2 linked regions of the Homo sapiens genome follow. The protein of the gene in region 2 interacts with the protein of the main gene of each other region in a biochemical or structural test. Each region holds a gene or a part of one and is shown on either strand. Other genes may lie near its edges.

Evidence for each region. The genes of interacting proteins can lie anywhere in the genome.
Region 1: the proteins of KCNJ4 (region 2) and TJP3 interact in a test that uses a peptide from one of them, tested with the Homo sapiens proteins (one large-scale study listed by IntAct).

The regions. Positions count from the first base shown.
Region 1 is NC_000019.10:3,732,384-3,735,883, forward strand, and holds part of TJP3 (tight junction protein ZO-3), read left to right. Parts: intron 1-1,369; coding exon 1,370-1,529; intron 1,530-1,943; coding exon 1,944-2,052; intron 2,053-3,182; coding exon 3,183-3,256; intron 3,257-3,485; coding exon 3,486-3,500. UniProt on the Homo sapiens protein: TJP1, TJP2, and TJP3 are closely related scaffolding proteins that link tight junction (TJ) transmembrane proteins such as claudins, junctional adhesion molecules, and occludin to the actin cytoskeleton.
Region 2 is NC_000022.11:38,428,514-38,431,199, reverse strand, and holds part of KCNJ4 (inward rectifier potassium channel 4), read left to right. Parts: intron 1-2,686. UniProt on the Homo sapiens protein: Inward rectifier potassium channels are characterized by a greater tendency to allow potassium to flow into the cell rather than out of it.

The DNA.
Region 1 (3,500 bases), on a different chromosome or scaffold from region 2:
TGCCCTGCCCTAAAGGATGGTATCTTTCTGGATTCTTCCCCTGAAAGTCTGTTTCTAGTGACTCCTAGTGTTTGATTTCCAAATTGCTTTCAGCTGATTATTTCCAGTGTCTTCAAAAAGTTATCTGTTTCTTTTTTTTTTTTTCAGACAGAGTCTCGCTCTGTCACCCAGGCTGGAGTGCAGTGGCGCAATCTCGGCTCACTGCAACCTCCGCCTCCCAGGTTCAGGTGATTCTCCTGCCTTAGCCTCCCGAGTAGCTGGGATTACAGGTGCCCGCCACCACACCCAGCTAATGTTTGTATTTTTAGAAAAGACGGGTTTCTCCATGTTGGCCAGGCTGGTCTCGAACTCCTGACCTCAGGTGATCCCCCCCGCTCGGCCTCCCAACGTGCTGGGATTACAGGCGTGCACCACCACACCTTGCTAATTTTTTGTATTTTTAGTAGAGACGGGGTTTCTCCATCTTGGTCAGGCTGGTCTCGAACTCCCGACCTCAGGTGATCCATCCGCCTCGGCCTCCCAAAGTGCTGGGATTACAGGCATGAGCCACCACACCCGGCCGACATTAAGTTCTTTCTAGGAATTGTGTGTTTCTAATCTACCTCTAGATGACTGTTTTCTTTTCTCTTTTCTTTTCTCTTCTCTTTTTTCTTTTCTTTTCTTTCTTTTTGATATGGAGTGTCGCTCTGTCACCCAGGCTGGAGTGCAGTGGCGGGATCTTGGCTCACTGCAACCTCCACCTCCCGGGTTCAAGTGATTCTCCTGTCTCAGTCTCCTGAGTAGCTGGGACCACAGGCGCCCACCACCACGCCCTGCTAATTTTTGTATTTTTAGTAGAGACAGGGTTTCACCATGATGGCCAGGCTGGTCTTGAACTCCTGACCTCAACTGATCTGTCTGCCTCTGCCTCCCAAAGTGCTGGCATTACAGGCGTGAGCCACCGCGCCCCACTCTAGATATCTGTTTCTAGTTATCTCCCAGAAGATTGTGTGTTTCTAGTATCTTTTAAGTATCTGATACTCCCTCTTCTCCAGTTAGAGTTGTTTATAATGTCACCCTCACATCTGTTCCTAGTATCCCCTGAGACATTTCCACTTTTGGTAAGAAAGGAGAGTCAACCTGTTTCTCATTTTCCCCAGTGTCTCCCACCCCTCTTAGAACATTTTCTGTTTCTAGAATTCGGTGCTCAGTTCTTGGTGTGGTCTCCACTCACAGCAGGAATCCAATTCAACACTTTCCTTAGGGAGTGGCTGTTTTTAGCAACCTCTGGGGGAATTGTCTGTTTCAAGTTCCCCCACACCAGGCTGTTTCTACTGTCTCCCATCTCTCATTAACTCACTTCCGCTCTTTCATTCCTGGTCCCTTTCAGATCAACGGGGTGTCTAGCCAGAACCTGTCACTGAACGACACCCGGCGACTGATTGAGAAGTCAGAAGGGAAGCTAAGCCTGCTGGTGCTGAGAGATCGTGGGCAGTTCCTGGTGAACATTCCGCCTGCTGTCAGTGACAGCGACAGCTCGCCATTGGAGGGTGAGGACCTAGAGGTTAGGACCTGGGAGGGGGTTGAATGGATGGCAGGGAAGGTGGGAAGCCCCAGGCAGGGCCAAGGAATCAATGAGCCTGGTCCCTAGAGGCTCAGAGAGTGACAGGAACTTGCTGAAGGCCACACAGCAAGTCAAGAGTTCAGGGGGGCGATCTCGGCTCACTGGGTTCAAGCGATTCTCTGCCTCCTGGGTTCGAGCGATTCTCGTGCCTTGGCCTCCTGAGTAGCTGGGATTATAGGCGTGAGCCACCGTGCCCAGCTCCAGAGCCGAATCTTCTAACTGAGCTTCTGACTTTGGTCTAGGGCCCTTTGTTTAGAGGGGTGTTGATATACCCCTCTGTAAAATGGGTCCAGTCCAGAAGGCGTGACCATGGCTGATGAGATGTCCTCTCCCCCTGCAGACATCTCGGACCTCGCCTCGGAGCTATCGCAGGCACCACCATCCCACATCCCACCACCACCCCGGCATGCTCAGCGGAGCCCCGAGGCCAGCCAGACCGACTCTCCCGTGTAAGTATCACCCATCGGCCAGAATGGTGATAGGGAGGGAGAGGGAGGTGGGAGGGAGAGGGGAACGCGGGCGTAGCTTTCCAACTGGGGGTAACCTTGAGGACGCAGTCCTGTATTTCTAGCATGTGCCTCAAAATACCTCCAGCCTCTACCCATTACCCAGTTCCAAAGCCGTGTCCGCATTTGTAGGTGTTGGTTACAGCAGCACCCCACTTCTTAGTATCAAACTCTGCCTTAGGCCAGGTGCGGTGGCTCACGCCTGTAATCTCAGCACTTTGGGAGGCCGAGGAGGGTGGATCATCTGAGGTTAGGAGTTCGAGAACAGCCTGGCCAACGTGGTGAAACCCTGTCTCTACTAAGATACCAAAATTAGCCCGGCGTGGTGCCGGGTGCCTGTAAGCTCAGCTACTTGGGAGGCTGAGGCAGGAGAATCACTTGAACCCAGGAAATGGAGGTTGCAGTGAGCCGAGATCGTGTCATTACACTGCAGCCTAGGCAACCAGAGCAAAACTCTGTCTTAAAAAAAAAAATTTCTTTTTCCTCTATTTATTTATTTGTTTTGAGACTGAGTCATGTGAGACTGGCTAATTTTCATATTTTTGGTAGAGATGGGGTCTGTATTGCCCAGCTATGTTGCCCAGGCTGGTCTTGAACTCCTGGGCTCAAGCATTTGGCCTGCCTCAGCCTCCCAAAGTGCTGGTATTACAGGCGTGAGCCACCACGCCCAGCCCAGATAAATTAAAATTATTTTTATTTTGTTTATTTATTTATTTATTTTTTTGGAGACAAGGTCTCACTCTGTCGCCCAGGCTGGAGTGCAGTGGCATGATCTTGGCTCACTGCAACCTCTGCCTCCCGGGTTCAAGCAATTCTCCTGCCTTAGCCTCCTGAGTAGCTGGGATTACAGGCGCCCACCATCATGCCCGGCTAATTTTTGTATTTTTGGAGAGACGGGGTTTAACCTCGTTGGCCAGGCTGGTCTTGAAATCCTGACCTCAGGTGATCTGCCCACCTCGACCTCCCAAAATGCTAGGATTACAGGCATGAACCACCGTGCCCGGCCTAAAATTCTTTTTAAAATGGCCCCTTGAAATCCATCCCTGCCTCACTCCCAATCTGTTCCCCACCAGGGAGAGTCCCCGGCTTCGGCGGGAAAGTTCAGTAGATTCCAGAACCATCTCGGAACCAGATGAGCAACGGTCAGGTGGGTGGTGACTCTGAGCACCCCTGTCCCTGACATTTCTGATCCCTGACAGCAAGGCTGTGCCAGGCAGAGCTGGGGGAGGTTGGCCTGAGCCTAAGTGGTGAGACATGGTTTCCTGAGAAGGACTCGAGGTGGGTGACAGTCCTTCCAGGATGAGGACATAAAGCAAAGGTTTGGAGGCTGGACTGAGCCAGTGTGCTTGGGAAAGAGACTGGCTTTTCCCTTTCAGAGTTGCCCAGGGAAA
Region 2 (2,686 bases):
ATCCCACCGGGCAGAGAACCAGGGATCCCCTGGAACCCTGGGCTTGTGTTTGGCCTTGGGCAGGGCCCCCCACCTTCTCTGGAGCTCAGTGACCTCACCCGTTGAAGGCCTGGGCCGCCACACCCTGTCCCCTCTGCCTCTATCCTGCACACCTGTGGATGGTGGTCCAGTTTGGACTGGCTGGTTTCTTCTCTTCCCTTGCCCCAAAACCCACTCCAGCCCCCTGCAGGGAGGAAGTGGATGAGGAGCTCTGGGGTGGGGGTGAGGCCTTGTTCAGGGCTGGCCCACCTGGCTCCACTCTGGGACTCTTAGCAAGTCCTTCCTATCTCTGGATGTCCTTGGTCTCCGATATAAAATGAGGGTCCTGAACTCGGTGACCCTATGCTCCTCCTGTCCTGACAGTCCGCGGTGCCCCTGGAGCCATTTCAGGCAGTGGGACAGAACAGGGGGAATACATTTAGCAAAGAAAGGCCTCCCTGAAAACTCTATTTACAGAGCAGAAGGTGTGCCTGGCCCCAGAACCCCAAGCCTTTCTCCTGGAGCCCTGGCTGCTGGGATGCTGCGGGAGGGGGCAAAGAGGGTCTGGGCCTCCCAGCTCTGAAGGGCCAGCATTACGTTAGAGGCCGTGCCTGCATGACCTGTCGGGTCTCCAGCATGATATCTCATTGGCCCAATTTTCTCATTTTCTTTTTTTTTCGAGACGAAGTCTCACTTTGTTGCCCAGGCTGGAGTGCAGTGGCACGATCTCGGCTCACTGCAACCTCTGCCTCCCAGGTTCAAGCGATCCTCCTGCCTCAGCCCCCCAGTAGCTGGGATTACAGGCACACGCCACCATGCCCGGCCTAATTTTTGTATTTTCAGTAGAGACGGGGTTTCTTCATGTTGGTCAGGCTGGTCTCAAACTCCCAACCTCAGGTGATCCACCCGCCTCGGCCTCCCAAAGTGCTGGGATTACAGGCGTGAGCCACCGCACCCAGTCAGCCCCATTTTCAAGATGAGGAAACTGAGGTTCAGAGTAGTCAACAGCTCGCCCAAGTCACACAGTGGATCTAGGACTTCAACCCAGGACTGTAGGAGCCAGGGAGCTCTTTGAGAACCAGGGGAATAGGGAGAAGAACTCGGAGTCAGGGTGGGTGACCGCGGGGGAGGAGGTGGGGGCAGGGCTCACTCTCCCTGGGCCCGGAGAGGGAGTTTCTCTTGGGAAGAGGCAGGCTCTGAGGCTGTTGATCTCTAAATTATAGCGTTGGCGCGTACCGGTTGCTGCGGCAACCGAGTTGTCCTGAACCGGGGAAGTGTATAAACATTGCCACAGATGCACAATTAGATCAGGAAGAAGAATAGAACAGAAAATAGAAACTTCCAGCCTTATGTAATTCTGGGCCAAAATGTTATTGGGAACCCAGGCCCAGTCCTGGCCCTGCCAGCTGCTGGGGCCTGGGGCAGCAGCATGTCTTCCCTGGGGACGCAATGGCAGAGAGGGGTGGAGAGAAGGTCTGTCCTCTACGGGCCCGAGGCGCATCCCGCCACCCAGTGGGGTGAGGGGCCTCTTCTGCTGCAACAGCTGGGGATGCTTGACAGGCAAATCCTGCCTGTCACCAGCTCCTGGGAAGTGTGGGAAGGAAGGCAGGAGGGTGATGGCTTTACCCCAGCACCTGCTGTCCCCGTAGGTCCCATGAGGTAGGGAGTTTTGGTGCCCATGTTACATGAAGACATGGAGGCTCTGAGAGGTGAACTGAATTGCCCGAGGTGTGTCCTCCCCTCCCACTCCCTGTCTCCCCGCCATCAACTCATTCATGTTGGTGCCACGCAAGTTTGTATCCACTGCCAGCTTTGTGGCTGGCAGGTGGCTTTCCATCTCTGAGCCACCTGGGACATGGGAATAGCGATGTCTACAGAGGAGTCAGAGCTGGGGGCTCCCCCTTCCTCCACCCTGACTGTCACATTGGATTCTCCCCTCACCACTGCTCCTAACAAGTGTGGGCACTGGGCAGGAATTTGGGCTCAAGGACTCAAAGCAACACTGGGAGAGAAGAGTCTAAGAAAGGAGCTCAGACCCAGGTGGGGCTGCGGGTCCCAGTAGAACTTTTTCTTTCTTTTTTTTTTTTTTTTTTTTTTTGACATGGGGTCTTGCTCTGTGACCCAGGTTGGAGTTCAGTGGCATGATCACAGCTCACTGCAGCCTTGACCCCCTGGGCTCAATAGATCCTCCTGCCTTAGCCTCCTGAGTAGCTGGTACCAGAGGCATGCACCACCATGCCTGGCTAATTTTCTTATTTTTTGTAGAGATGGGGTCTCACTCTGTTGCCCAGGCTGGTCTCAAACTCCTGGCACAAACAATCTTTGCATCTCGGCCTCCTAAAATGCTGAGATCACAGGCATGAGCCCCTGTGCCCAGCCAGAAATTTCTCAGTGATAGAACTCTCCTGTGTCTTCTCTGTCCAGTGTGGTGGCCGTTGACCACATGTGGCTCCTGATCACTTGAAATGTGGCTCATGCAAGGAAGGAGCTGCAGTTAATATTTTATTTCGTTTTAATTAAATGTAAAGAGCCACACGTGGCCAGTGGCTAGTGCACAGGAGGATGTCCAGCCCCCGAGAAGCCCAAAAGTGCAGAGATGGAATCCAGGGAGGGAAGCGGGCTTAGCGCCTCCGTGGCTCCCTATGCTCAGGGCAAGCAGGACAGAGGG